Linked DNA regions of Homo sapiens. The protein of the gene in region 2 interacts with the protein of the main gene of each other region in a biochemical or structural test. Each region holds a gene or a part of one and is shown on either strand. Other genes may lie near its edges.

Region 1 (15,120 bases), about 61 Mb from region 2:
TCCCAGGTGAGTCTGCGAGGCTTCTGTGTATTTTTTGATTCCGTTGAATTGTCTGCATGTGACGCAGCAGTGATTGTTCAGTTGGTGAGAAGTCTTTGATAATTCTCATGAGAAAAGGCTCTTTTATTTTCTCAAATCAGACAACTTATAATGCTTTTTTTTAAATAAGCTTCTGAAATTTCTTTACAGAAGTTTTTTGTTTTTTGTTTTTTTTTTTTTTTGAGACCAAGTCTTGCTCTGTTGCCCAGGCTGGAGTGCAGTGGCGCGATCTCGGCTCACTCCAACCTCTGCCTCCCGTGTTCAAGCAATTCTCTGCCTCAGCCTCCTGCGTAGCTGGGATTACAGGCGCCTGCCACCATGCCTGGCTAGTTTTTTTGTATTTTTAGTAGAGAAACATCTTCGCCAGGCTGGTCTTGAATTCCTGACCTCCTGATCCACCCGTCTCGGCCTCCCAAGTGCTGGGATTACAGGCGTGAGCCACGATTTTTTTTGTTTTAAAGATGGGGTCTCACGATGTTGCCCAGGCTGGACTGCACTGGCTATTCACAGGCGTAATCATAGCTCACTGCAGCCTCAGGCTCCTGCCCTCAAGTTATCCTCCCACCTCAGCCTCCCAAGCATCTGGGACGACAGGCCCAGGCCACTGCACCTGGCTTTTCTTTACAGAAGTTTTTGTAGAAAAAGATACTTGATCCATGTATAGAATTAGATGATCCACAGTGATAAATTTGAATGGCTTAATATGAGGTGCTGGAGGAAGTCCTTACTTTCACTAGAGCAGAATTTTGGGGCACACTTGACTTGTTGATTCTCTGAGGGCAGGCTGGGTACTGAATACCAGAGGAAGTCATCATTTTTCTGATGTGAGTGAGCAATTTAAGGGACATATTTTTGAAATTGTGACTCAGATAGTCTGTGCTGTGTTTGGGAAGGTTAAGTTGAGAGGTGGTGGGTAGGGGAGGGCAAGTGGTGGATACAAAGGTAGCGATTGGAGAGGTGCAGGGGTCTCTTCTTGGTTACAGTTTCCATGCAGCTGCACCAACAGTATCGATCCTCTGTTAGGGACTGTAGTATGTAGCAAGCTCTAAAGCACTTCCCAAGCCTATTATTTTTGTTGCTATTTTACAGTAGAATAGGGGGTTTGGAGAAGTCATAGTAGTTGTCCCTGGGTTTCATAGCTAAGGATGATAGAACCTCCCGGGGCCACCACATTCCAAAGCCTGTGATCTCCCCACTCTCCTGCTTGGCTTTTCTTCTTCTCTTTTGATAAGAGTCCTGGGAAGACATTTGTTTAAGTTTAGGTGTCTAATGGATACTAGTCTCTAGGCCTGCTACTTGCTTTTCTTCTCCTTCCTCACTTTTAAAAAGATAATTTGTACTCCAAGCACTGTGTAATGGAGATTAATACAAGCCACAAATATAATTTAAAATTTTATAGTAGCCACATTAAAAAGAAGCAGGTGAAATTCATTTTCATAATTTATTTAACTCAATATATATAAAATATTACCATTTCAACAGGTAACTGATCTAAAAATTACTGGGATGTTTTACATTCTCTTCTTATACTAGTGAGTATTTCTCTTCAAAATCTGGTGTGCATTTTACACTTATAGCACCTCTCAACCTGGACTAGCCTCATTTCACATGCTCAGTAGCCACGTGTGGCCTGTGGCCTTCATATTGAAGAGTGCAGGTCTGTACAGACATGCATGCTCATCTGACCTGCATGCTAATTCATTTATTGCGTGGGTGTGTGTGTGTGTGTCCGTTTGTGTGTGTGTGTGTGTGTGTCCGTGTGTGTATAACCAGTTTGTATGTGAGAATTAGTGTGCCCCTGTTTTGGAGCAGACATTTGGACCACGTGATGACCTTTGGAAGGAAATGGCACCAAGAATGATGTCCAGAGCCACTTGATGAGTATCTGATGAAGAGATGCACATGGCAGGGGCTGTCTGGCTGCCTCAGGGCCACTGTTGTCTGCTCACCTCTATTTGTAGTGGCATCTTATCTTTTTGTGGGGGAAATGTGAACTAATATGTCCAAGTGATTAGTGCTGGGTCTCCCTGTTTCCTTTGTGCAGCTGATCCAGGGGATCACTGATCCAGGGGAGCTTTTGTGGTGGCTAGCATCCATAATGACCAAAGAGGAGATCTTAAGAGATGTTTTTGTCCCGGGATTTCGTTATCTATGGCTCTATGTTTCTTCTTGTCCCCACAGTGATGCACCATGCCAATAGTGGATAAGTTGAAGGAGGCCCTGAAACCCGGCCGCAAGGACTCGGCTGATGATGGAGAACTGGGGAAGCTTCTTGCCTCCTCTGCCAAGAAGGTCCTTTTACAGAAAATCGAGTTCGAGCCAGCCAGCAAGAGCTTCTCCTACCAGCTGGAGGCCTTAAAGAGCAAATATGTGTTGCTCAACCCCAAAACAGAGGGAGCTAGTCGCCACAAGAGTGGAGATGACCCACCGGCCAGGAGACAGGGTACAGATGTGCAGTGTGCTGGCAGAGAGGCCCTCACTCCGGGGTGACGAAGTGGATGGACTTAAATATTGACTAATTAGTAGGAAAAACAAGAGAATGTGGTCAAAGAGTTATGAATTTTTACATGGGGTCAGTGGATTTCAGTTATAGAAGTAATGATACAGGGTTGGTAGCAAGGAAATCTGTGTGCTTGGTGGATCTGTGTACTTGGTGGGTCCTTGGACTTGCTGTCCCCCTATCCCAAGTATAATACAGTCGAAAGTCAGGCTTGGAACTAAGAAAGAGAAATGGGGTGGGCTGCATGTGGGCACAGTGTGGTGCAGAGTGCCAGGCCTGGCTCCTTCCGCCACTCAGTCTCTGAGCTGTGTCCTCCATCTATAGAGGGGCCCTTGAATTCTTTAGCCAAGCAGCCTAGGAGGTCCGTGGGATGGCTGGGTTTACTCCTGAGCTTTCCAGGAATGTCCTGTAAACCAGAACACCAGTTCTTCTCTGGTGCCATGTTCCGAGTCACTGCATGCTAAGTGTATGCTTCAGGAGTTTCTTTTTGTGGACGACCTGTGTGTGGACTTACGTCTTCCTCTTTTCTTCCCTTGTCCCTTTCTTCCTCAGGCAGTGAGCACACGTATGAGAGCTGTGGTGACGGAGTCCCAGCCCCGCAGAAAGTGCTTTTCCCCACGGAGCGACTGTCTCTGAGGTGGGAGCGGGTCTTCCGCGTGGGCGCAGGACTCCACAACCTTGGCAACACCTGCTTTCTCAATGCCACCATCCAGTGCTTGACCTACACACCACCTCTAGCCAACTACCTGCTCTCCAAGGAGCATGCTCGCAGCTGTGAGTGTGGGTTTGCAGCAGTGGGGTGGCTGTGGGTCCTCTGGATTAGATAAGCCCATGCACTTGTGGCACTGCTGCTCTCAGTCTGGGTCAAATTTAGGAGGGTAGTTCATAATGTATAGTAACTGATGAAACCTAAATTTGAATCATGCCTGCTGCAGAATGGGCCATGAAGGTGAATCGGTCAGGTGGGGCTGTGTTCGCCAAGCTTTTCTGTAAATAATTACCCAGACAGAAACGTTTTCAAAAGATACTTCCAAAATATATATATATATATATATACAAATATTATTTTTTTAGAGACAGTATCTTGCTCTGACACCCAGGCTGGAATGCAGTGGCTCCATCACAACTCGTTGTAGTCTTGAACTCCTGGGCTCACATGATCCTCCCATCTCAGCCTCCCAAAGTGCTGGGATTATAAGTGTGAGCCACCATGCCTAGCCCAATTGTTTTATGCATCTGTTGTTGTATCAGCATATCTTATGTGTATTATAAAACGTGCAGCCTGGACAACACAGCAAGATCCCATCTCTACAAAAACAAATCAAGGCCGGGCACGGTGGCTCACACCTGTGGGAGGCAGAGGTGGGCAGATCACTTGAGGTCAGGAGTTGGAGACCAGCCTGGCCAACATGGCGAAACCCGGTTTCTACTAAAAATATAAAAATTAGGCGTGATGGGGTGCACCTGTAATCCCAGCTGCTCGGGAGGCTGAAGCAGGAGAATTGCTTGAACCCAGAAGGTGGAGGTTGCAGTGAGCTGACCAAGATCATGCCGCTGCACTCCAGCCTGGGTGACAGAGCAAGACTCCATCTCACACACACAAAAAACAAATCGAAACAATTAGCTGGATGTGGTGGTGTGCTCTATTTGATTAAAATAGAGGTGAAATAAGATATAACTTACCAAAACTGAAAGAAATAGAAAGTGAAGAGTCTTTTAACTATTAAAGAAATTAAAGCATTGGTTAAAAATCTTCCCATAAAAAACCCCAAGCAGAGACAATGTTATTTCTGTGTAACTTTTTTTTTTTTTTGAGACGGACTCTGTTGCCTAGGCTGGAGTACGGTGGTGTGATCTCAGTTCACTGCAACCTCCGCCTCCTGGGTGCAAGCAATTCTCCTGTCTCAGCCTCCCAAATAGCTGGGACTATAGACGCACGCCACCACGCCTGGCTAATTTTTGTATTTTTAGTAGAGATGGGGTTTTACCATGTTGGTCAGGCTGGTCTTGAACTCGTGACCTCAGGTGATCCAACCGCCTTGGCCTCCTAAAGTGCTGGGATTACAGGTGTGAACCACTGTGCCCAGCCAATTTCTATGTAACTTTTAAGAAACAATTCCAATCCTTTACACGTTCTTCCAAAGAATAGAGGAGGAGAGAATCTTTCCCAGCTCATTCTATAAAGTTCCTATAACTCGGATAACAATAATAAGGAAAATGCGAGAAAGAAAATGGATAACCACAACTTCTTCACGAACATAGATATAAAAATTGTAGGAAAATACTACCAAATGACACAGTTTCTAAAAAACTGTAAGCAACTTATGTTTATCCTAGGAATGCAGGATGTTTTCATCGCAGAAAATCTCTAAGTAGAATTCTGGAGGGAGCAGAGCAGTTGAAAACACAGCTCAGGAGCCTGGCCTGTAGGGTTTGCTTCCCAGTTTGCCCCTTAGTAACTGTGAGTTTTTGAGAATGTCCCTGGTCTATGGAAGAATGAGACTGTCTTCCTTACAGAGTTGCGTGAGGCTCCGATAAATTCTGAGTGAGTCAAGTGCCTGGAGTAGCAGCCCGCAAAGAGGGAGTGCTATAGAAGTGACTGCTACTGGCTGGGCACGGTGGCTCACACCTGTAATCCCAGCTACTTGGGAGGCTGAGGCAGGAGAATCACTTGAACCTGGGAGGCAGAGGTTGCATTGAGCTGAGATCACACCACTGCACTTTAGCCTGGGCAACAGAACAAGATTCCGTCTCAAAAAAACATAAAAAAAAGAACACAAGATGGCCATGCAGTGGGAAGTGTTTGTAAACATCTTGCTAATTGCGATGGCTTCATAGCAGCAAAGGTTAATTATCAAGGCATAGTTGTTGAGATGAAGCAGCACATTGTTTGGGGGCGTTTTTTGGAGATGGAGTCTCGTTCTGTCGCCCAGGCTGGAGTGCAGTGGTGCAATCTCGGCTCACTGCAACCCCCGCCTCCTGTGTTCAAGAGAGTCTCCTGCCTCAGCCTCCCAAGTAGCTGGGACTGCAGGTGCCCGCCACCACGCCTGGCTAATTTTGTATTTTTAGTAGAGACGAAGTTTCACCATGTTGACCAGGCTGGTCTTGAACTCTCGACCTCAGGTGATCTGCCTGCCTCTGCCTCCGAAAGTGCTGAGATTACAGGCATGAGCCACCGTGCCCTGCAGAAGCACATTGTTGAGATGGCTAATTGTAGCCCCTATTTCCAGTGGTGACCTTGGTAATTTTGAGGTGGTTCTGGGTGGACTTTCAGTAAGATTTGACTAGATGGCTGTTGTTTTCGTCTCATGGTTTTGGCAGTAAGACTCTGCTATCCCAGGCCTGTCAGGGCTCTTCCACTGTAGAGCTGCCTTCCATTCTTGGTTTCTCTGCAGGATCTTTTTGAGCCAGTTGCCAACTTTGTGAGGATTAATTTAGTTAAAACTAGATAATATCTGTAAATCCCCGTAACCTGGCACAGGTAAGCTGCAGTTTGTTGCAGCATGTCAGCAGCAAGCGTGTGAGTAAGGCAGCCATGGCCATCCCTTCAAGGGGAACGCCTGGTCTTCCTTCCAATACCGGTCCCATGGGCCAGTATCACTGTGAAATATTAGTGCATCTTACTATCTTGGAACATATGAAGAGACGTTGTGGCCTTTTTTTCCTGCACCCCACTGGATCCTGAGTGACCCCTAAGTGGGCTTTGGCTGTGGTCTCCCCCTCCTAGCACATGGCATTTGAAGAGTTGAGGATCCTAAGGGGTGTTTGTTCTGACGAGGGTCCACTGTGCACGTGGCACGGAGCAGCAGCTCCTGCCGTAGGCTGGACTGTCTCTGGCGCTAATATTTAGCTAGAAGAGAAACACTGTGTAAATAGTCTAGGAGGAACGCAGTTCAGTCCTGTCCTTTTGTTTCCCAAATCTCTCTATGTCCGTGTAGTCATGGATTGACTTTTGAGTTATATTTTCCTAAATTACATGAATAAATATTTGTCCATGTGCCACTTAAATTAATCTCATATATTGCTGGAGAACCTGGCTTAGATTGTTATTTACCCTGTTAAGAGTGATATTTTATTAGGCTGAAAGAAGCTTTTTTTTTTTTTTTTTTTTGAGACAAGCTCTCACTCTGTCACGCAGGCTGGAGTCCAGTGGTGTAATCATAGCTGACTGCAACCTCCACCTCCCAAGCAATCCTCCCACCTTAGCCTCCCAAGTAGCTGGCACTATAGACTCATAGCACCATGCCCAGCTAATTTTTTTTTTGTATTCTTTGGGTAGAGATTTGGTTAGGCAGTGTTGCCCAGGCTGGTCTCAAACACCTGGGCTCAGCGATCCTCCTGCGTCAGCCTCCCAAAATGTTCGGATTATAGGTGTGAGCCACCATGCCCAACCAGCAGCGTTTTATATATAATGATTAGAGGCTTAATTTCTACACAGTTTTTTGAGACAGAGTCTCTGTTGCTTATGCTGGAGTGCAGTTGCCACAGTCTCGGCTCACTGCAACCCCCACCTCCCAGGTTCAAGCGATTCTCTTCCCTCATCCTCCCAAGTAGCTGGGATTACAGGTGACTGCCACCACACACGGCTAATGTTTGTATTTTTAGTAGAGATGGGGGTCTCACCAAGTGGCCAGGCTGGTCTTGAACTCTTGACCTCACGTGTTCCACCCGCCTCACCCTCCCAAAGTGCTGAAATTACAGGTGTGGGCCCCCATGGCCATTTTCTTTTGTAGTAAAACTGTATCTTACCTGAAGTTAGGTTTTGGAAAAAAAAGAGCTCTTCAATATTTATGTTGTCCCTTTTTTTTTTTTTTTTTTTTTTTTTTTTGAGATGGAGTTTCACTCTGTCGCCCAGGCCGGAGTGCAGTGGTGTGATCTTGGCTCACTGCAACCTCCGCCTCCCAGGTTCAAGCGATTCTCCTGGCTCAGCCTCCCGAGTAGCTGGGACTACAGGCACGTGCCACCATGCCTGGCTAATTGTTTGTATTTGTAGTAGAGACGGGGTTTCACTGTGTAAGCCAGGATGGTCTCAACCTCCTGACCTCGCGATCCACCTGCCTCGGCCTCCCAAAGTGCTGGGATTACAGGCGTGAGCCACTGCATCTGGCCTGTATTTTCTTTTAAATGACATAATTTTTGCCTAATTTTGAGTTCACCAATCATTATTGTCATTTTAAAAATAAAAGTAATAACATGGATATAGTTAGAAAAGGCAAGCAGAAGTCTAAAATGAAAAAAACCTCCCCTTTATGTAAAGGCAATCTCATGGAGAGTTTTTTACATCTCTTCAAGAAGAATTTTGTGTAAATAATAGCATTTTAATGTCTATTTGCTAAGCAGGCTGCATGCTGTTGCATTATTGATTTTGAAGTCTAAGGAGTTGGAGATATTGCGGGGAAATGATTTGGGTTGAGTTTTGTGTTATGAGATGGATCTATTTGATAATAGATAATAGGTAATGCACTGTGTAGTAGACAACAGTATCTAGCAGATTTGAAGGCGTGCTTGCCCTTTGGTCCAGAAATTTGTCTTCTGAGCGTGTACTTTAGAGAAACTGACCCATGTGCTCAAGGAGACAGGTGCAGGATTGTTCATTGCAAAATGTCTATGATAGCAGAGAAAATGGAAAGGCTAAATGTGTGTTAGTGGTGGATACATAAATAACAGTGGTCTCTTCATTCAGTGAAATATTCTAGCTGGAAGATTTGAAGGAACTGGAGCTATGTCTAGCAACATGGATTTTTGTAAAGCCATTGCTGAATGATACGTAACTGCATGATACGATTTATAGAAAGGAAGTTTGGAAACATGTAGCTACAGTGCCATTTATTGTTCATGGATACACATGTGTGTGATAATACATGAATGAGAACGATAATTGCCTAATTCAGGATAGTGGTGACTTTGAATGAAGGTACATGGAAAATGGGGTTGAGAGAGATTGAGGGGAGTTCGGCGATCACAGCAGTGTTTATTTACATCATAATTTGAAAGGTAAAAATGTACCACTGTCGGGGCTGGGCTCGATGGCTCACGCCTGTAATCCCAGCACTTTGGGAGGCTGAGGCAGGTGGATCACAAGGTCAGGAGTTCGAGACCAGCCTGGCCAGCATGGTGAAACTCTGTCTCTACTAAAATACAAAAAATTAGCCTGGCATGGTGGCACGAGCCTGTAGTCCCAGCCACTTGGGAGGCTGAGGCAGGAGAATTGCTTAAACCCGGCAGGCGGAGGTTGCAGTGAGCCAAGATTGTGCCACTGCACTCCAGCCTGGGTGACAGTGAGACTCTGTCTCAAAAAAAAAGGACCACTGTCTAGCCTAATGCCTAGTGAGGCGTTTTATGTAGCGCAGGGGTGGGCAGACTCATCTGGCCTGCTCTCTGTGTGTGTAAATAAAGTTTTATTGAACACGTTCATACCCCATTGTTCATATATTGTCTATGGCTGCCTCCTCTACAATACAGGAGCATAGTTGTGACTAGACTGTATAGCCCTCAGATAGGAAAGGATTTGCTATCTGGATCTTCCCAGAAAACATTTTCAACCCCAGATGTATCCTAGCGAGGTGTTTACTAGAACCAGTGGAACAGACGGTCCCATATCTGAGGCACTACTAAGGGGCTGTCAGCCCTAAAATATTTTAGCCTATTTACCATGTGATGCAGCTTAGAAATTCGAGAATACATCGTTTAAGCTTCATTTTGAAAATCTGCCTTAGTCTTTTTATAAGTAAATAATACTAGTGAAATCTGAAAAGGATCATGCACAGGTCAGCATTAATGTGGGGTGATGGTGTGAGGTTGTGATGGTGAGAGTTTCAGCTTTGGATGGATCATAGCTTCCAAACGCCATCCAGCAGAGAATAACATTTCCTTGGTGGTCACCCAGTCAGCAGAGGTCTGGGATCTCTGGCTCAGCCGTTCTCTCACAGCCTGGTTTGCTCTTACCTGCTTGTGTTTCTGGCTGTGTTAACGTTTGGGGTGGGGGCCTCACCGTGAGTTCTTTGAAAGCTCTTGTCTTAAAATTGCTCCTCCTTCCACGCCGGCAGGCCACCAGGGAAGCTTCTGCATGCTGTGTGTCATGCAGAACCACATTGTCCAGGCCTTCGCCAACAGCGGCAACGCCATCAAGCCCGTCTCCTTCATCCGAGACCTGAAAAGTAAGCATCAATCCATGTTAAAATTTTTGTGATTTATTTATTTTTTAATTTTTTGTAGAGATGGGGTTCTCGCTATGTTGCCCAGGCTGGTCTTAAATTCCTGGCCTTAAGCAGTCCTTCCGTTTTGGCCTGCCAAAGTGTTGGGATTACAGACACGAGCCACTGTGCCATTCTCCATCTGTTACTGAAGGCCTGCTAAGTGCTCGCCCTGTAGGAGGTGCTGGGGAGTTGGTAGAAGGGAGAGAAGAGTGAGTCATGGATGAAGTCTTGGGAATCCCTCTGTGCTAACAGCCCTGCATGTGGTGGTGCAGACTCAAGGAATAGCAGTTTAGAGACATGTGGGCTGGGGTCAGTGGGGAAGCCTCTTAGTGGGGGCAGGTCAGGACAGGTAGCTTTTCCTTTGGGCAGGTGGAGGAGTTATTGTGTATTTGGGGCAGGCAGGTGGGCCTGAGGGAGAGCTGGGAGGAGGGATGGATGAGGAATGTACCAATTCCATTCTGAATATCAGGAATCAGTTGCCTATGCTATAAAAAAGTCTCATTCACATTCACTTGGCAGAAAGAAGAGGCCTATTACCGGTTTTTGAAATCTGTGTAAATTGTAGCACTGTGAAATACTTACTCACCTGTGTTTTATATTGGCTTTTGGAGAGATATTCAATGGATTTTACATTCTTTTTGTTTGAGACAGGGTTTTGCTCTTATACCTAGGCTGGAGGACAGTGGTGCAATCACAGCTCGCTGCAGCCTCAAACTCTTGGACTCAAGCAGTCGGCCTTGGCCTTCTGAGTAGCTGGGATTACAGGCGCACCACACTTGACTGTTTTTGTATTGTTTGTAGAGATGGGGTCTGGCCATGTTGCCCAGGCTGGTCTCCAACTCCCAGCTCCAAGCGATCCTCCTGCCTTGGCCTTCCAAAGTGTTGGGATTACAGGCATAAGCCATTGCATCCTGCCGGATTTTACATTCTTTATTCTTTTTCTTTCTGAGATAGAGTCTTGCTCTATTGCCCAGGCTGGAGATTGCAGTGGTGAGATCATAGCTCACTGCAGCCTCAACCTCCTAGGCTCAACCCATCCTCCTGCCTCAGCCACCTAAGTAGCTGGGACTACAGGCACATGCCATCATGCCTGGCTAATTTTTTTATTTTTTATTTTGGTAGAGATGAAGTCTCCCTATGTTACCCAGGCTGCCCTCGAACTCCTGGGCTCAAGTGATCCTCCCACCCAGGCCTCCTGAAGTGTTAGAGTGACAGGTGTGAGCCACCTCACCCAGCCGGCATTTTACATTTTTGAGGGCTTGGTGTTCTTCCTTGTCTGTGCAGTAGTGAATGCTCAAGCCTGCAATCTTATTGAGAAAGTGGTGGCCATGATGAATTGTGATTGGGATATAGAAAATCCATGTAGAGCTCTTGTTTTCCTCACTTGTTCCTTTGAAAAGTTGCAGTATTTTCCCCTTATAACAGCCAGGAATGGCCATTCAGGAAAGCAGCCGCAGGCCGTTTGATGAGAAGACACGAGCTCTTCCCTCCCTGTTTCTTCCTCTTTTAGAGATCGCCCGACACTTCCGCTTTGGGAACCAGGAGGACGCGCATGAGTTCCTGCGGTACACCATCGACGCCATGCAGAAAGCCTGCCTGAATGGCTGTGCCAAGTGCGTGCTTCCCCACCCACCCTCCCAGGGCTTTGGACACCTTTTCTACATGGTGGCAGCAGAACATTCCTATGGCAACAGCCAGCCCGGCACCTTTCTACCCAGGCTGCCCTTGGGTAGACGTGGCAGAATTTGCCTCTGGGTACTCAAACTGTTGGAGCCCAAATAGGGGATTGCCCTTGCTTCCTGGGAAAGGGCTGTCTCCGGAGACGTCCTGCTGGTCCGGGGCGGCTTGGTAGGATCGGGTGGCTGTGGTGGCGGCAGCTGTGTCTGAGCAGCTCAGTCAGGGGGAAATATGTTAGCAGACCTTCTTAGGGGCATTCAGTTCTTACCATGGACTTTTTCAGTCTCTTAAAAATCATGTCGTTTTTGAAAAGAGGTTGGGGTGGTAGGAATGAGGTCTCTGCAGTATAATTTATATGTACATGTATATGTACAAACAGGGAGCTTTAACATGAGGAGGTTTATAACTTTAGGATCTGACTGTGCCTGGCTGCTGTTTCTTATTCACACGCCACGTAAGCCCTTATATGTGATGGTTGCCATCACAAATTGTCTTTGTGTCATTCCTGAGTTCATAGGTTCAGACCAAAGAAAACAGGCAGGAAATGCTTAGGACTTCCTTGTATTGCCTCAGCTTAGGATCGTAGAAATACTTTAAATAGTTTAGGGAATATACCTAGAATGTTCTTTAGAGAAGTTGAGTTGTGGCAATAAGTGATTGAAATGGCAAAACTACTGGCCTCAGTGGATGATATTCTTACGTAAATAAGACTTACAGAAAGAAAACTGCTTTTGAGACAGGAGTCTTGCTCTGTCGCCCAGGCTGGAGTGCAGTAGCTGGGATTACCACCGTGCCTGGCTAATTTTTGTATTATTAGTAGAGACAGAGTTTTGCCATGTTGGCCAGGCTGGTCTCCAACTCCTGGCCTCAAGTGATCTGCCTGCCTTGGCCTCTTAGTGCTGGGATTACAGGCATGAGCCACCATTCCTGGCTTAAGAAAACTTACTTAAATCACTTATATGAAGGCAACTTTCACTGCACTCCTAGGATGCATTCCTTTTTGTCTGTTTTGAGGGTTTGGTCACGCGTTCTTCCCCTTCTCCTGAAGGGGCTCAAGCTTCCTTGCTCCCTGTATGATCCCAGGTCTGCCCTTCAGTGAACTGGGTAATTGAACTGCTGTTCCCTGTGTGCTGGGCCCCATAGCTAGCACTGGGAACTGAGAGGTAGAAGCCATGGTCCTGGAGTCTGTGGAGCTCATGGTGTAATTGGTGAAGACAGTGGACCCCAGCAGCGTTTGCAATGTGGTGTGGCCAATGCTGTGATAGAGGGATATTACCTCACCCAGAGGCGGCTTCCTGGGAGAAGTGACCCCCGAGGGCCTGCAAAGGCAAGTAGGTGTCCCCAGGAGGAGGGTTGCGGTGTCCCCAGCACCTGCAGGGGGAGTGCAGCGAGCCTATAGCAGGGGGCCTGGCTCTGGGCACAGGGTGCAGCCACCTGGAGCGCTCTTAGGACAGAAACTGACCCCTGGGCTTCAGTCAGTCCAATTAACCAGAGTCTACGGTGGAAGAAATTCGTGAGGAGTAGGATGGGAGGTAGAATGAATAACGGTTTGGATTTGGGGCTGTGAGATGGGAGGAATGCAGGTCTGCGGTCTGGGCATTGGGGTGGGTGGTGGTGAGCCATTCGTTGGTACCAGGATTGCTGGAAAGAGGAGGGAGGCCAGGTGTCAGGTGGCCAGGCATTGCCAGGGGAGAGATGAAGGCTCACCAGATGTCGGTCCATGAGGGAGCTTTCACTGGTCTGTAGTGAAATGTGGAGTGAGAAAAAATAAGAATGACACCAATGGTGAGCTTCTCATAAAGCAAATTATTCCATTTAATTTGCAGGTGGAGGGGCCTTTTTGTCTTTTGCTTCTGTAGATGACTTTTGATGTTACTTGCATTATGATCAGAGCGTGTTGATAATATTTCTACTTCATGGAACTTCCTGATGTTTTCTCCGTGATTATAGGTGACCAGCGTTTGTGAATGTTTCCTGCATGCTTGGCGGTGGCTGCTGAGACTGCCAGGGTGTTGGTTTGCTCCTCTGTCCATGGATGGGTCTACTGATGATGCAGTTTTCATTTTCTATATCCATGTGCTCTTGTCCCCTTCATCTGTTTGGAATAGTGTGTTAAGTCCATGATTACTGGAATTCTGGTGGGTGCCTGTCTCCTTGCATCTCCTCTAGTTTTGCTCTATACAGGTGGTTGTGGTTAGATATTCGTAACTGTCATGTCTTCATTGAGGATCGTTGCTTTTAGCATTCTGAGTGTCTTCACTTGTCACGTGGAGTGGCTTTTGTTCTGAATTCTGCCATGGCCAGTGTCAGTGCTGCAGCCCCTGCTTTTGCAGGGTTTCCGCCGGCCCCTTGCTGTCACTTTCTGAACCCTTTCTTAGAGGCGTTCTTAAGATCTGTCTTGTTTTGTAAGCCAAAATGACCATCTTTTAATAGGCAGGTTAAGCCCCTTCACATTTCCTGTTATGACTGAAAAGTTTGGTCTCAATTCTGTCATATTTATGTATTTTATAGTAATTATAGGTAGCATATTTACTGTGCTTATTTCTGATTTTTCTTTATTTCTCAAATTTCTTTGGATATTAGGAAGATGTGTGTTTTTGTTTTAATGGCTACCTTTGTACATAAACCATTCTTTTTGAGACAGGGCCTTGCTCTGTCTCCCAGGCTAGAGTGCAGTGGTGCAATCTCCGCTCACGGCAGGCTCCACCTCCTGGACTCAAGCAATCCTCCTGCCCAGTAACTGGAACTGCAGGCACGCTCCATGCTGCCTGCTGGTTTCATACGCCCTTTTGAAATGCACCTGGTCCTGTTTTCCTCGCTCCTCACTGTCTGATTTGGCAGTCCACCGTGGTACCCTTTACTTCCTAGCTCTTTTCCTCTCCTCTCTCTCTTGCCATTTTAGCGTGCATGATTTCATTTTTTTTGTTGGCACCTGTAAGGTGGTATCTTTTTCTTGCCCAGCCTTGGGTTATGGTTACATCTTCCCATTGCTCATTGCCCACCCTCCAGTTGGCACCTCTGGTGCGCTCCTGGCTGGGTGAAGCCCGGCCTCTCATAAGTTCCTCCAGGAGGGCAGCTGTGTGTGGCACTCTAGTTCCAGAAATGAGGCCACTCTCACTGTGTTGAGGACGTTCGGCTTGGAGTTTTGGTGGCTGTGTCCTTGGCATCATGTCTGTTTTCTGGAGCTAGTTTGCATCCCATGAGGTGTTTTGATTCTTGTTCATTGCTGCTTTGTGCTTGAAGCACTTTGCATAGACTGGGCCTGCTTTCATTTATCTTGTGGGTCGGCTGGTTTTCAAGATTCGTATCCAGAGCGCCTCCTCTGTCTGCCCCGTGCAGTGCACTTTCATGGTTGGCTTTTCCTCTGGCAGCAGAAGGGTCGATAGTCTAGGATAGTTTTGAGTTTTTTTCAGGACCCTGATGTTTCCCCTTTTGCCTCTCTTGCCCTTCACTGCCCTTCTAAGGCTGCCTGCCTGCCTCTTTGCCTTCTCCCCCTGAGAGCCCATGCCTGTGGAGACTGCTACTCCAGCTGCGTGCCTGTGAGACCCCATATTCAGCACTTCACTTCAGGGTGCCCTTTGCAGCTGTGATTCCGGGTGGCTCTCGGGCCACCTCCTGCCCCCTCCTCCATTCTTGCCCAGCTGTTCTCTACTGCCCTTTGTCCCCAGGCTCAGTGGGATGCCTGTGGGAGCTCGCTGTCACTCAGCT
Region 2 (15,327 bases):
TAATCCTAGCACTTTGGGAGGCCGAGGTGGGCGGATCACCTGAAATCAGGAGTTCGAGACCAGCCTGGCCAACATGGCGAAACCCCATCTCTACTAAAAATACAAAAATTAGCCAGGCATGGTGGTGGGCGCCTGTAATCCCAGCTACTTGGGAGGCTGAGGCAGGAGAATCGCTTGAACCTAGGAGGCAGAAGTTGCAGTGAGCCAAGATCACGCCCACTGCACCTGGGCAACAGAGCGAGACTCTGTCCCCACCACTGACCCCCACCCCCTGCCCCCCGCCCAAAAAAAAAGGATTTCCATCATACTCAGATATCTGTTTATTTTCAACAAGTTACATGACTTTTAAAACCGCTCAGAGACCAACTAATGTGGGTAGATGACTGTCCTCTTCTCAGCTAGCGTCATTCCAATTTGAAACTCTGGAAGCAAGCTCTGAGCTTCCTATACCCCTCACATGCTATCACTGGAAGCATGGCAGCCACAAGATACTCCCACTCCAAGTTACTCTACTGAGCTGCAGCAGTTCTACACACCCAGAAACTCAGCCACAAGCCTAGTAGGACAAGTATGGCTTAGTTTCCCTACCTGGCCCTGTACCACAAACCCTTCTCTCATGGCTGCTGATCAGCTCCCTTCTCAAAGGCTAGTTGTACAGACACAAACTTAACTATTAAAAACACTGCAGGCCTGGGAAGGACCCCTCAAGATGGCCAGGCTGGCCAAACCTCAGCTCTAATAACTGGATGCAAGAGCCAACAAGAGATAAAAAGCCAGACTGCTTCAGGCTCAGCCTTAAGGAAGCACCTCTGATTTGGAAATCTGATTTGAGCTCATGCTGGGGATAGAACAAACCTTTATTTTATTTAATTTTTTTTTTTTTTGAGACAGTCTCACTCTGTCACCCAGGTTGGAGTGCAGTGGCACAATCTCGGCTCACTGCAACCTCTGCCTACCGGGTTCAAGCGATTCTCCTGCCTCAGCCTCCCAAGTAGCTGGGACTACAGGCGCACCCCACCACGCCTGTCTAATTTTTGTTATTTTCAGTAGAGATGGGGTTTCACTATGTTGGTCAGGATGGTCTTGAACTCCTGACCTCGTGATCCGCCAGCCTCGGCCTCCCAAAGTGCTGGGATTACAGGTGTGAGCCACCGCGCCCGGCCCAAACCTTTATTTTATAGATCCACCTTCTCCCTCAAGCTGCTCCTAGACAAGAATTTTTCAAAATTTTCTCCATGAACACCAGTCCCATAAGAGACAGTAGACAGGCTAGGCACGGTGGCTCACGCCTGTAATCCCACCCAGCACTTTGGGAGGCCAAGGTGGGCATGTTGCCTGAGGTTAGGAGTTCGTAACCAGTCTGGCCGACATGGTGAAACCCCGTCTCTACAAAAATACAAAAATAAGCCAGGCATGATGGCAGGTGCCTGTAATTCCAGCTATCGCAGAGGCTGAGGCAGGAGAATCGCTGAACCTGGGAGGTGGAGGTTGCCGTGAGCCGAGATAGTGCCACTGCACTCCAGCCTGGGTGACAGAGTGAGACTCCGTCTCAAAAAAAAAAAAAAAAAAAAAAAGAAAAAGACAGTGGACGAATGTCTACAGTGAAATCAATTTGTAAAATACTGATTAGAGTTTCAAAAAGCATTAATATATTTAAAGCACATGAGAATTACTACAGCAAAAGAACCCACTGACTTTGAGCACTTACCAAAGAACCTTCTCTCATAATACCTATTAATACCCATCAGCCCACAGTGAGAAGTACCACACAGGAGTTAGTGAGTTGAAGAGACCTGGGTTCAAATGTGAGCTTTGTCTCCTACTAGCTTTGTGACCTTTGTTAAATCACATGCTGAACCTAAAAACCTGTACAGTTTCTTCATCTGTAATAAGGAGAACAGTAGGTTCTTGGGTATTCATTTTGTTATGCTTTATAATTTAGCTATTCTTTTGCTGCTACTAATATTACAAGATTTTAAAAATGGGGACAGTTTTAAAGATTACAAGATTAAAGTTTTTAAGATTACAAGATTTTAAAAACGGGGCCTCCTCCCTTCCAGGCAGAAAAACAGCATTATATGACTACTTGGTTGACACTCCTGGAAAGGGGTGGTGAGAGGCCTACCTGCAGGGGTATTGCGAGAATTAAGTCAGATAATGCAGGGTGCCTGACACCCTACAATCTTTACTAAGCACTCTGACAAAAGTCAGAGGGCCCTGGACTATCCTGGGGCAAGCCAGAGCCCTGGATTCAGCATCTGCCAAAGAGACATGGTCTGGGCTCCCCCTGCAGGGATCTGCCAGTAGTGGGGGCCGCCTGGGCCCCATTTCCAGAGCTAGGAACTCTAGTTCTCATCCCATGCTTTTATCATTCCACACTGGGGGAATGGGGGTCTAGACTGCAAGACTGTCCCATATAGACACACAATACTTTCCCAAAGAGCTGTCAAAGGTCTCAAAGGCACTTTTTTTTTTTTTTAAAGACAGAGTCTCACTCTGTTGCCCAGGCTGGAGTGCAGTGGCATGATCTTGGCTCACTGTAACCTCCACGTCCCAGGTTCAAGCAATTCTCCTGCCTCAGACCCCCAAGTAACTGGGACTACAGGCTAATTTTTGTATGTTTAGTGAAGACTGTTTCCCCATGTTGGCCAGGCTGGTCTCGATCTCCTGATCACACGTGATCCACCCACCTCGGCCTCCCAAAGTGCTGGGATTACAAGTGTGAGCCACCATGCTCGGCCCCAGAGGCACGTTTCTAAGTCCTGAATCTGCAGTGCTGGCTACAGGCAACCTTCCCTGCCATTGACAAGTGTTATCAATCTGTTTGACTTGGCTATATGCATAACCAAGGGCCCTGACTTCCCATCTCCAACAAGGAACCACTTTTCTTAATGCAGTTCTGGAGCAAATCCAGATGTTTGTCAAAGCTTGACTGCCCGCATGCTCCCTGACCCCATCCCCCAAAGGGCTCTAGAACAAACAATAAGCCATGTCAGGTTCCTGCCACGGAGCCCAGGCCTTGGAAGAACTAGTATGGAGGTAGGGCTGCACAGGCCCACAAAAATGACTTTGGCACTGACCCAACCTGGAAGGCTTATTAGTACTGGTCTTCTAGAACTTCCTAGCAGCTATGACACAGCCCACTGACCCTTTCCTCAGAATATCCGGCTGCTCTGGCAACATGAGCTCAAAGTCCTGATTAAGGGAAGCTCTCCTGGCCAATCTCACAAAATGTCGAGCAGAGACCACAGGGTATTATTTACTATTAAGGAACCTACTTGCTACAAAATAAATTGTCTGAAAGTCTCAGTCGGCCAGCTTGCAACTTAATATGCCCTTGGGTCCAGCCCTACTGCTGGCATGAAAAGTTCCAGGACCTCCTGCTTTTTTGTTTTCACAGGGAAAGGAGAAGAGGAAATAACCTTATGCCATCTGGCTTGCCTGCTCCCTCTCTGGGCTGAGCCCCCAGCCCCAGCCCCAGAGGCACTGACCAGTATATGTTGCAAATGTCACCCACTAGTCCTATACCTCAGAGTGACTCTCGAAGGAGCTGACATGTCTATCTCCTCTTTTGGGGGCCTTTCCCTGACTGCCCAGGCTGGGTTCCCCCTACATTGCTCAACCACACCCTCTCATGCCTCTTTGCTATTCCATCTGGCCTTGTGGAAATTGTGTCTTCCCTTCAAGACAAAGCTCTTCAAAGGCCTTACTCATCCCTGCACAGTGGACACTAAATGAAATGTGTGTTGAGCTGAACTATTCTACCACTTAGAACCTGTTTCTGCCTCTGCAAAACAAAGATCACAGCAAGCCCCTCCTCAGAAGATTAGGTGCAAATTAAATGAGGTGTCTGAAATTTTTTTTTTTTTTTTTTTTTTCGGAAACAGAGTCCCACTCTGTTGCCTAGGCTGGAATGCAGTGGCGCAATCTTGGCTCACTGCAACCTCTAGCTCCTGGGTTCAAGCAATTCTCTGCCTCAGCCTCCCGAGTAGCTGGGATTACAGGTGCCTGCCACCACGCCCGGCTAATTTTTGTATTTTTAGTAGAGACGGGCTTTCACCATCTTGGCCATTCTTGTCTTGAATTCCTGACCTCAGGTGATCCACCCGCCCTGGCCTCCCAAAGTGCTGGGATTACAGGCATGAGCCACCGCACCTGGCCCTGAAAAATTCTTTAAAGAAACTATGCAGGACTGTACATCTCTCCTCTAGGGGACGGTCTTGGAAACTGAGTTGTTATGACACATTTCCAAGATGGCCACCATTTTCCATCTACTCCATGCCCTGCCTAGGCCAGGATGAACCAGAGATGGAGGGACTGTCCAAGATCCCAGCCTGGTGACTGTCTCTCTCCAGCTATGGCTACCTGCCTTACTGACAGACCCACAGGACCAAGAAGGTCAGGCTTTTGGGGGCAGCAGACCAGCCACCTGGACCCAGGGGCAGGATTGTGAGCTCAGGCTCAATTATTTACCAGACCCAAGCCTCCAAGACGACCCATGGCCTAACTTTATAAGAAGTCCTGGGGCTTTCTGAATCCAGAGGGAAGGTCAACCTGCCAAGTCCCAATTCTGTACACACCAAGATAGACAGTACTAAACACAGAAGGTAGCCCATCTCCTGAGACACTTTTAGCTAAATTTCAAGCATTCAATAGATGACAAAGATTCAACTTTCTATAACAACTCTATAGCATCATTAGACTGGTTTTGCAGATGAGGAAAACTGAGGCCTCAAAAAGCTTAATTTCCCCGAAGTCAACGAGTTAAAATGGTGGTGCTGTAACTCCAACCAAGTCTGCTGTCAAACTTTCTGGATTTTGTTGTGGAGGCGGTAGGAAGAAAAGCCCATCTGTGTTTCCTGGTAGCAAGCCTGTCCAGGGGGCCTTGCTGGCCTCACCAAAGGGCACACGTACACCCACTAGCCCCATGAAAGAGATTTGCAGAGATGAACCTATATCCCCCAGAGAGCTAGCACTGTATCAGTGAAGGCTATCCACCAACTGGCCAGCCAGCTCTGAATTTTCTTTTTCTTTTTTTTGAGACGGAGTCTTGCTCTGTCGCCCAGGCTGCCAGGCTGGAGTTCAGTGGCATGATCTCGGTTCACTGCAAGCTCCGCCTCCCGGGTTCGTGCCATTCTGCCGCCTCAGCATCCCAAGTAGCTGGGACTACAGGCGCCCGCCACCACACCCAGCTAATTTTGTTTTTTGTATTTTTAGTAGAGACAGGGTTTCACCATGCTAGCCAGGATGGTCTCGATGTCCTGACCTCGTGATCCACCCACCTCGGCCTCCCAAAGTGCTGGGATTACAGGCGTGAGCCACCGCGCCCGGCCTTGAAATTTTTTTTTTTATTATTTTTTTTGAGACGGAGTCTCACTCTACAGCACAGGCTGGAGCGCAAGGGCTCGATCTCGGCTCATTGCAACCTCCGCCTCCCGGGTTCAAGTGATTCTCCTGCCTCAGCCTCCTGAGTAGCTGGGATTAGAGGTGCACACTACCATGCCCGGCTAGTTTTTGTATTTTTAGTAGAGATGGGGTTTTACCATGTTGGCCAGGTTGGTCTCAAACTCCTGACCTCATGATCCGTCCACCTTGGCCACCCAAAGTTCTGGCATTACAGGCATGAGCCACTAAGCCTGGCCAGCTCTGAAATTTTTATGGCCTATTTATTCTCTGCTTGCTCTGAGCTTCATGATTAACACCATGGTTCACTGTTAGCTTCCTTTCTTTTACTGCCCTCTGCCTTGTCAGGCTCTGGCAGCAGCAAGGGCAGCCAACCCCCCTGGCCCAGAGCTCCTCCTGACGGTGCACAGCCCTGACTTCATCCTGTGGTTCCTCCCCCTCCAGTGGAATCAGAAGAGTCCACACAAGAGATGTGGCCCAGGACCTATCTGCCCTACTTTCCCAACTATTTTAAGCCAGAAAGCTAAATTTTGCTTTCAACCAGCTGAACAAGATCAGACTATCCCAGAACTGACAGGGGTGCCCACTCCACCCAATACCAACCGTTAACTGGAAGAGTCACAGGCTGAGCTCACCAGTGCATGCCCCGTGCCTGGGTGATACAGTCATTTCCAGACGGCTGGCCTAGGCCTGGGTCTCTGGGCATGTGGCCACCACACCACAGACCACGTAGCAGTGATTAAAGATAGCAGCAAGTAAGCAATTAGCCTTGAAGTAATTATTCTAATTAGTCCAATCAGAGTCTGTTTTAATCTGCCCCATGCAGCCAACAGGGAATAGGAGAATGAATGACAGATAAAGTGATATGAAGATAAAAAATATTTCCCTAAAGTACAGCCTTAAGAGGGGATCCACCCAGGCCTAACATGGGAAGGTTACAAAAAACAACTGACGACTAGGTTTGGAAAGGAGTTTGAAGCACTTCCAGAAGATTCTGTGAGGCCTTGTTCTAAATGCCCAGGTTTAGACACTGCTGAGTCAATGTTTGTGACGCACCAACATCCATGCTGATCACTATTAAATATAAAATTGTATTCTTGCCATGCGGTCTTAGAGGGGTACAGATACCATTGCCACCAACACCAACTGAAGTCTAAGATGCCTACTACTAGAATCCCTCCCCATCTGCACCGCACCACTGTTTTCACCAGCCCCTCCCTTCCAATCTGCAGCTTTACTGCTCATCACCTCTGGGCTAGGATCTGTACCAGGAAAAGAGAAAGCACCACTTCTTACCAGTTTATATGCAGGATTTGACGACGGGCACTACTAATAGGCAGGTGTTCACCCACCTGCATACCAAGGTAAGCTAAGTATGCAGGTGCAAGAAGATTTAATTAGTGGAAGGGTCCAGACCCTAGAGCAGTGACTCTCAACTAAGGATTCTGCACTTCCCCTGCCTCGGCATTTGGCAGTGTCTGGACACTTTCTGGTTGTCATAAAAAACACTATTGGCACCTAGCAGATAGAAGCCAGGAATGCTGCTGAACAGTCTACAATGCACGAACAGCCTCAACAATGAAGCATTATCAAGCCCTGAATAACAATAGCACTGTTGAGAAGCCCTGATCTAGAGTTCACCAGAGCACCCTCAACCACAGTCTCTACTAATGAACTCCATCTGCCTCCCATCAACATCCACCCCCTCTTACCTATGGCTACTCCTGCTACTGCAGCCAAAGACACTGCTGTTGTGTATTTCTCCACCTTTCTCTGCTTGGCTCATTCCTAGTCACTTTTCACATTCCAGTTCATTTCCTCCCCTAAACTTCCAACACTCCAAAGTGGAAAAGATGTCCCCCTTCAGTGTGCTTCTGCAGTTACCTTCCTGGGCTATAACTTATCCTCCTGTCTGAGGCCTCCATGGGGCTTGAACTACACGAAGGGAAACTGTCATGTTTCAGGCTCCACCAAATCCCTAGTTCCTTCCCCAGTGAGAGAGCAGGGGATCACTGAGTGGTTGTATATGAAAGCAAGCACCCATTTAAGTACCTACCCTGTGCCAGGCCCTATCTTAGACAACAAATCACCACATTTAATTCTAATAGGCTTTGGAAGTTGGCATCATCCCCACTTACAGATGGGAAAGCCAGCTCAGAGAACGCCTACAAGATCCCAAAGCAAATGAGAGAAAAGCTGGATTCAAAGCCTGGGGCAGCACTTTTCAGGACATGGCTGAGCCTCCCACACTAACACCACAGCCAAGTCTGAATCCAGAAAGGGTTGACAGGGACTGGGAAAGCTTTAGGACTTTACTATTCTGAGGAAAAGATGAAGAGAATTTTCCTGATGATGCAATCCTGTTGCTGATCACTAACAGACCTGCATACTAAGAACTCGAAACTTCTGTTCTTAAAATACAGGGTGGGCATGTGTTAAGGAGAGTAGTAGTCCCAAAACCAAAAAAAAATGCCTTGTGATCCCCTCATTAAGCACCAGACCACTACTAGACCTCCTGACAACCACCCTGAGGGCCAATGACTACGCAGAAAATTAATATCCCGCTAAGAGACCAAATGGTCCTTGTGTGAGGTAATTTTTGCACTGAGAACCCGTCAATGGGGTCAGACCCCAACCTGCCTTACACAGCAAGCACCCGGAGAGGGTGTGTCCTGGAAATCCCATCTTAAAGCATTTTGCCAAGACATCCATCTAGGAGCGCCATGAAGATCTGAGAAGCTCAGAAGCCCATTATAAGAAGGCATCTGACAGCTAGGCTGTCCTCTAAGTTTCAGATGCCTAAAGAGCTAAAGTATCGCTTCTGCTACTACTGACTTCCCACCTTCCCACCAGGACGTCTTGGACATTACAAGGCTCTGCTGCCATCCCCAACATGGAAGCAGCCTCAGCTGTTAGACTCAAATGAAACAGATGACCTAATCTCATATCAAGAAGGCTCCAGGGACCCTGCTTCTCCTCATGACTTTGGCCCTACTGACTCACTTCAGAACCTGGGCTGCTCACGACAAAAGCCCAGTGTGTCCTCAACCTTGTATTTGGTGGTGGTCAACCAAGCTGCTCTGAGAACAGCTGCGGTCTAAACCTAAGATGTTTTGGGTATTACTGAATTACATTACTAGGTTTACCTTTTTCAGGACTGGAAGGAGGCCGCTTCCAAATAAATTTTCACTTCACATAAACAGCAAAGGTGTTCCCAATGGCAATCTCCTCTGGGGGCCAGGGCACTGAGCTAATTCTCAGCAGGATCTGGGAACCGAATATAGGCCAAAAGCCTAAGTTCTGCTGCTCACGCAACTGTAAGGCCAAACAGTCAAGAGACCAGCTGTATTCTGTTGTATTCAGTCCTGACTACAAGTAACACGTTCTTACAAAGAACTGATGGGCTCTTCTGCAGCCAGGAGGGAAGAATTTTAAGAGTGTGCTGCTCTGTATGCCTGGCCCAACCACTAATCTGTTCAACTCCAGGGAAGTCACTCCCCCTCCTGGGAATGGAGAATGTGCTTCAATTAAATAATCTCTGGGGCCTTTGCCTGTGACTACTTTCTCTGTTAAGGAATCCAAAAATGGCAGAACAAGAAAGACTTTTAGATAAATTAAAAAAAAAAAAAATTTTAAAGCATAGATTTGTAAATGGAAGGCCAGAATGGAAAACCGGAAAATCACAAAGGGACTTATGCTAAGAAATGGATGGTGGGAAAAAAAAAAATCAAAGGGAACAGCCTTCTGAAAAGATGGCTTTCGATGAATTCTCAGCCAAGTCAGTGATCCCGTCAAACCTGCCTTCGGGGACAGGATTTCCACATCGGTTCCCTATTTTCTTGCTATAGGTATCTTAAACACAAAACCCTTCTCTCGCTCCCTACAATCTACAAACAGAAGAACTGGTCAGAACTGTAAAAAACGCAGACTCCTACGGGCTGCTGCTTTCTGGGCCAGGGTGGGTAGCTAAGGCAGCAGGCGCAGGGCCGCCCCCTCCACCCGGGTGGGTTACCTGAGCACAGTCACGCTTCCCCTGCGCACCGGCAGGGAAAGCACTGGTTCCGACACCCGAATAGGCTTGAACTGGAACTTGCAGCCGAAGCACAGCGCAGAGTCGCTAAAGAAGGACACGGACACGATGGGGCGCTCGAAGATGTGGATGGGGTCCACGTGAGACACGATGCAGCCGCCGGGCTGGTAGTCGTTGATGACGGCGCTGTTGACGAAGCCCTCGGGGATGACGCGGTGCTCCACCAGCTTTTGGATCACCAGCTGGTGCACCCACTCGGGGATCTCGTCCACGTCGCCCGGCGGGTAGAGGCGCTCCTGGCCGGGCCCGCGCTTCTGCAGCTGGGCGCCGTAAGTGTAGCCTTCGCCGAAGAAGTACTTGTTGCGCAGTGGGGCCCGGTCCACCGTGTGCTCGTTGTACAGGCCCTTCTCAGCGCGGGACACCACCTCGTCAATGCGGGCCTCGATCTTGGCGCACTCGTCCTGGCTGAAGAGGCGCATCTGGCGGATGCCGCTCTTCACCTTGCGCGCCTCCTCCTCCTTCTGCAGCTGCTGCTCCTCATAGTCGCTGCGCTCGGGGTCCGAGTCCTCCTGATACTTGCGCTTGGCCCCGGACACAGGGTAAGGTTCGGCGGCAGCGGCGGCTGCGGCTGCGGCGGCTACGGCGGCTGCGGCAGCGGCGGCGGCCTCCCGGCTGCCCGCCTTATAGTTGTCCCGGGACGTCATGGACTTGAGCTTCTCACGCAGGTCCGTGTAGCCGCTGGCGGCCGCCATGGCCCCCACGACGCTGCTCTAGGGTCCTCCGGGGCGGGCGGGGCAGCCGGGCATGGCTCTAAGGGGACGCGCCCCGGGGCCCCCGGAGGGAGGGGGGTCCTTAGCGCCGAACCCCCATGCGTGAGTGGGGGACCCGGCGGGGGGCGTCGAGGGTCCGGGCGTGGGGTAGGGCCTCAGGAGCGGCGGGTCATGCAACGGTGGCGACAACGGGGCTTCTTCCTCCTCCACCTTCTCCACGTCCCGCGGGGCAGGGGCGCCGGCAGCGCCTCATGCCGCGGAGGGCTGCTGCGGAGACGCGGCCCGACTCCCGACCAGACCCTCGGACGCCCGGCCCGGCCCGCACTTTAAAGCTCTCCGCACGACGTCACGGGCAGCCAGCCCGACGTCCGCCAGCGCCGCTCCTTAGCGGGCTCCTCACCGCGCACGCGCAGTGCTGCCGGCCACCGCGGCTCCGCGCGCTACGGGCATGCGCGTGCGTGCAGGCCGGGTCGGCAGAGGCGCCGGCGCAAGCGCAGACAGGAACCGCTTGCCGTCCGCCGCCCCTCCCCCACTCTCTGAGGGGCTTCAAGGGAACGCTCTCAAATAGCAACCTGTCTTCACGCCGCGCCGCCTCCAGGACCGAAGGGCTCCCTCTACAGGGGTGCGCTCATATTGCCAACAGTGTCGCCGTGCCGCGTCACGGCATCGTCCGAACGCCCGCAGACGCCTCAACCCCAGGGCGCATTCACCAGGGAACCGCCACAACGTAGGCCGCTCCGTTACCTCCCCCTTTGGCGCTTCCACTTCTTTAATTGGGCCGTGGGCCACGCGCCGGGCAGGCCCTGACTGGAGTTTCCGGAAGTCGGTTGGTAATCATGCGTGTCAATCAGGCAGTCTCCTTAGCTACTGTGTCCGTCACTTAATTAGCGGCTGGGCGAGCAGCGAGGACCCCTAAAGGAGAAATGGGTGGTTAAATAAGTGCCTGAATGGAGACTCCACCTGAGTAAAGCCCTTAGAACGCCTAAGGAAACTTCTGAAACCCGCGAAAACTTCTCAGACTGCGGGACCTGCAGCACCCGGCCCCAGTTCTGAACCCAGATAGGAACGTCCGGCAGAAGCCAGACGCGCGTTGTCGGGGTACAAGCCAGCCTGCCGCCGCTGCCGCCGCCGCCCGGAGCGGACGTTTCACGAGTCACGTCCCGGTGACGGCGAGCGTGGGGGCGCGCTGGGGTTGGCGTCGAGCCTCCTTGGTGCTGGAGATGGGCGTGGGGGCACCTCCTACGGGGACTCTGGAAGAAAACTCCAGGAAACGAACGGGCGCAAGGCTAAGGCTAAGCTATAGATAATGACTACAGTCAATTCAAAAAAGTTTTGAAGCAGTCAGCAAAGGCGTTGCCGGGCGCGGGGCCTCACGCCTGTAATCCCAGCACTTTGCGAGGCCAAGGCGGGCGGATCACTTGAGCCCAGGAGTTTGAGACCAGCCTGGCCAACATGGCAACCCCATCTCTACAATAAAATTTTTAAAAATGAACTGGGCGTGGTGGCGCGCGCCTATGGTCCTAGCTACTCAGGAGGCTGAGGTGGGAGGATCCCTTGAGCCCAGGGGATTGAGGCTGCAGAGAGCCGAGCTGGCGCCACTGCACTCCGGCCTGGGCGACAGAGCTGCAAAACAAAACAAAAAGGCGTAGCCGTGCAGGATGCACTGGAGGGCTCCAACAAATGGGGGTCGGGGGGGATCTGCTGGAAAATCTCCCATGTCTCCCAGGATAAAGTTCCCCTGCTTTATTTGGCACTCAAAGCTTTTCTTCAAGACTCTTCTGGCCTTGGCTCCTCCTCTCCTCTCTTTCCATGTACACTGAGCCCCAGCCTGGTCCTCATCCTGTAAGCCAGGTCTACAAACATACTGTGTCTCACCTCCTGGCCTTTGCCCAGGCTGTTTGCCATGGCTGTTGCCCATGCCAGTTCCTTATCACCCGTCTCCCTCTCTCTCTCCCCCTTCCCCTCCTCCTCCTCGTTCTTTTTTGACAGAGTCTCTGTTGCCCAGGCTGAAGTGCAGTGGCACGATCTTGGCTGACTGCAATCTCGACCTCCCGGGTTCAAGACATCCTCCCACACCTCAGCCTCCTGAGTAGCTGGAACTATGTAGAGGCGTGTACCACCACACCCCGCTAATTTTTCTGTTTTTAGCAGAGATGGGGTTTCACCATGTTGTCAAATTGGTCTTGGAACTACTGGGCACAAGATCCTCCTGCCTCGGCCTCCCAAAGTGCTGGGATTACAGGCGTAAGCCACTGCGCCCAGCCTGGAATGGACATTTTTTTAAAAAGCTTATCAAGTTTTTACTATGTGCCAGGACCTGTGCATATACTAGCCCAATTAATCGTCCAAACAATTCAATGAGGAGGGCATTATTATTATTACCATTGTATATATAGGGAAACAGGCCCAGAGAGGTGAAATGACTTGCCCAAGGCCATACAGCGAGTATGTGGCCTAGTGATGATTCAAACCCAGGCTGCCTGGTTCCAGAATCTGTGCTGTCCCTCACCGGGGCTCCGAGAGGGGAGAGTCCTAGCTCAAGAGCAGTCAGGGAGGAACACAGGGAAGCTTCCAATGCAGTGTCCGTTATGGGAGAGGCTGTGTCAACCTAGAGAAGAGGTGATTCACATTTTGGCTCAACCTGGATGATCTACTTCCAAGAAGCCGCTTGTAGTCTGTGTGGGAGGCCCCAGTTGTATTCTGAAAGCCAAAAGGGCCCCCTCGTTTTCACTCTGCCACATCATCCCTTCCTGAGCCTCATAGTTCAGCTTGACTAGGGAAAAGGTTTTGGGGCAAAAGAATTAGCCTGACACCCCCTCCCCCTCACACACACCATGTATGATCTCACAACAATGAGAAATGAGGGGCAGAGGGCAGGCCTCAGGGCTGCCTCATGTTGGAGCCCACTGTGCTCTGTTTTGGGGGTCCCTATACTGAGCATCAGCGCCGCAGGCAGAACCCCAGGGGTTAAGTGAGCTGCTGCCAGGCATGGCCCCTGCACAGTGGTAACTTGATTGACACCACACTCTTTCTGGTGAGTTCCTTACTTTCCTCACCTTGGGGTCTGCTTCTGGGGAAAGCCAACCCAAGGCAGTGGTGAAAAGCAGGACAGCCCTGTGGCATTTGTATCAGGGGCTCTTTCTTGATCCTCTCCATCCCAGGATGGTCTGATTGACCCCCTAGTCCTGCCAGCTGGGCCTTCTAATCTCTCCCCAGTTACCAACTTCTCCCCACCCATCACCACCACTAGAATCTATGACAAGTTTTCCAGCTAACACTGCAGCAGCCCCCTCTGGTCTCCCCAACTCCTACATTCACTCACCGTTCAGTGGTCAGAATGGCTTTAACAAAGTACAGTCTGTGCAGGTTGTGCCTCCCCTTCCCCCTCTGGAAAACCTTTGAAGGCTGCTCATGGCTCTTGGGATGAAATTCTAAATTTTTTTTTTTTTTGAGACCGAGTCTCGCTCTGTCGCCCAGGCTGGAGTACAGTGTCGCGATCTCGACACACTGCAACCCCCGCCTCCTGGGTGCAAGTGACTCTTGTGCCTCAGCCTCCTGAGTAGCTGGGATTACAGGTGCATGCCACCATGTCCGGCTAATTTTTGTATTTTTAGTAGAGGAGAGGTTTCACCATGTTGGTCAGACTGCTCTCAAACTCCTGAGCTCAAGTGATCCACTGGCCTCAGCCTCCCAAAGTGCTGAGATTACAAGTGTTAGTCACCATGCCCGGCCCAGAAATCCTAAATTCTTTTTTTTTTTTTTTTTTTTTTTTGGAGATGGAGTCTCACTCTGTCACCCAGGCTGGAGTGCAGTGGCATGATCTTGGCTCACTGCAACCTCTGCCTCCCAGGTTCAAGCCATTCTCCTGCCTCAGCTTCCTGAGTAGCTGGGATTACAGGGGCAGGCTGCCCCTGTATATTATTCTTATTTTAGTAGAAACGGGGTTTCACCGTGTTGCCCAGGCTAGTCTCGAACTGCTGAGCTCAGGCAATCCGCCTGCCTCAGCCTCCCAAAGTGCCGGGATTACAGTCATGAGCCACTGCGCCTGGCCCAGAAATCCTAAATTCTTAATGTAGCCCAGAAGCCCTATCGAAACCATCTTTGCCGGCCTCTTCAGTCTCAGATCCTGCTACAAGTAATGCGCACCTCAGGGCCCCTGCGTATGTTGTTCTCTTTCCTCTTTCCCTAGCTAACTCCCACTCACAGGTCTTATCCTAGTTTGCGGTGATTTGACTGTGATTAACTGCCAGTGCCTGGTATTTGCCTCATTCACAGTAGGTATTTAATAGCTATTGAATGGCTGAATAAGTAGATAAATCCTTTCTCTGCTGCCATGGATCTTGCAGCTATGCCCCCATCTACCTATCTAGTCTCCCCAAGTGTTCTCTGCCCCGCACAAGCTCCCCAAAGCACCAGCACTTTCTATCAACATTCACTCGTTTATTTTTTCATTCATATGACAAATATTTTTTAAGTGCTTACTCTCTGTTAGGCATCCTCCTAGGTTCTGGAAGATACAGCAGGGAATAAACATGATTTTCTCTGGAATGTTTATCCTGCTGTCTTCCATCTATTCTTAGCAAACTCCTACTCATCTTTCAAAACTCAATGCTAATGTCCCATTTTCCAAGAAGGCTTTTCCCAAACTTCTCCCTTGTACCACTCTCAAACTTGTGTGGCCCATCAAGTGATGGGGGTCTGGGGTTGGGGATACCCAAGGAGTGGGGGATGGTCTGTTCATAGGCAGTGAATCAGGGGCCTAAGGTAACTCCAACTCCTGCCTCCTCCCTCAGGCTTGTTTTCCGGCCACTTAGCAACTCCATGGAGAAATGGCTGCCAGGCACACCTTTTGTTTGCACAGAAATAACCAAAGACCAGAAATCCAGGCTGACTGGCAGCACAAGGAGGGGCCCCTTAGGAGGACATGTAAGGGCTAGGGTGTGGAGTTGGAGCAGATTCCAACATCAGACCCTGAGTAAACCAAAGGCAGAGGCCAGTTCATCTGGGCAACTGGTGTGGGGCTTCTGTGTCATAGGCAGGAGTTAGGGGCAGGGTCTGCAATGGGTACATGGCAGGAGGCCTCATGGTCCTGCCTTCTGCTCCACTGCACAGTGGGCCAGACTT

The links.
Region 1: of the proteins of ALKBH5 (region 2) and USP36, one has a biochemical effect on the other in vitro, tested with the Homo sapiens proteins (one study listed by BioGRID).

The regions. Positions count from the first base shown.
Region 1 is NC_000017.11:78,823,473-78,838,592, reverse strand, and holds part of USP36 (ubiquitin carboxyl-terminal hydrolase 36), read left to right. Parts: 5' UTR 1-6; intron 7-1,521; exon of another isoform or gene 1,522-1,696; intron 1,697-2,220; 5' UTR 2,221-2,229; coding exon 2,230-2,482; exon of another isoform or gene 2,483-2,594; coding exon of another isoform or gene 2,595-2,611; intron 2,612-3,091; coding exon 3,092-3,313; intron 3,314-9,585; coding exon 9,586-9,696; intron 9,697-11,245; coding exon 11,246-11,348; intron 11,349-15,120. UniProt on the Homo sapiens protein: Deubiquitinase essential for the regulation of nucleolar structure and function. Required for cell and organism viability.
Region 2 is NC_000017.11:18,179,102-18,194,428, reverse strand, and holds the start of ALKBH5 (RNA demethylase ALKBH5), read right to left. Parts: upstream 10,602-15,327; 5' UTR 10,186-10,601; coding exon 9,416-10,185; intron 1-9,415.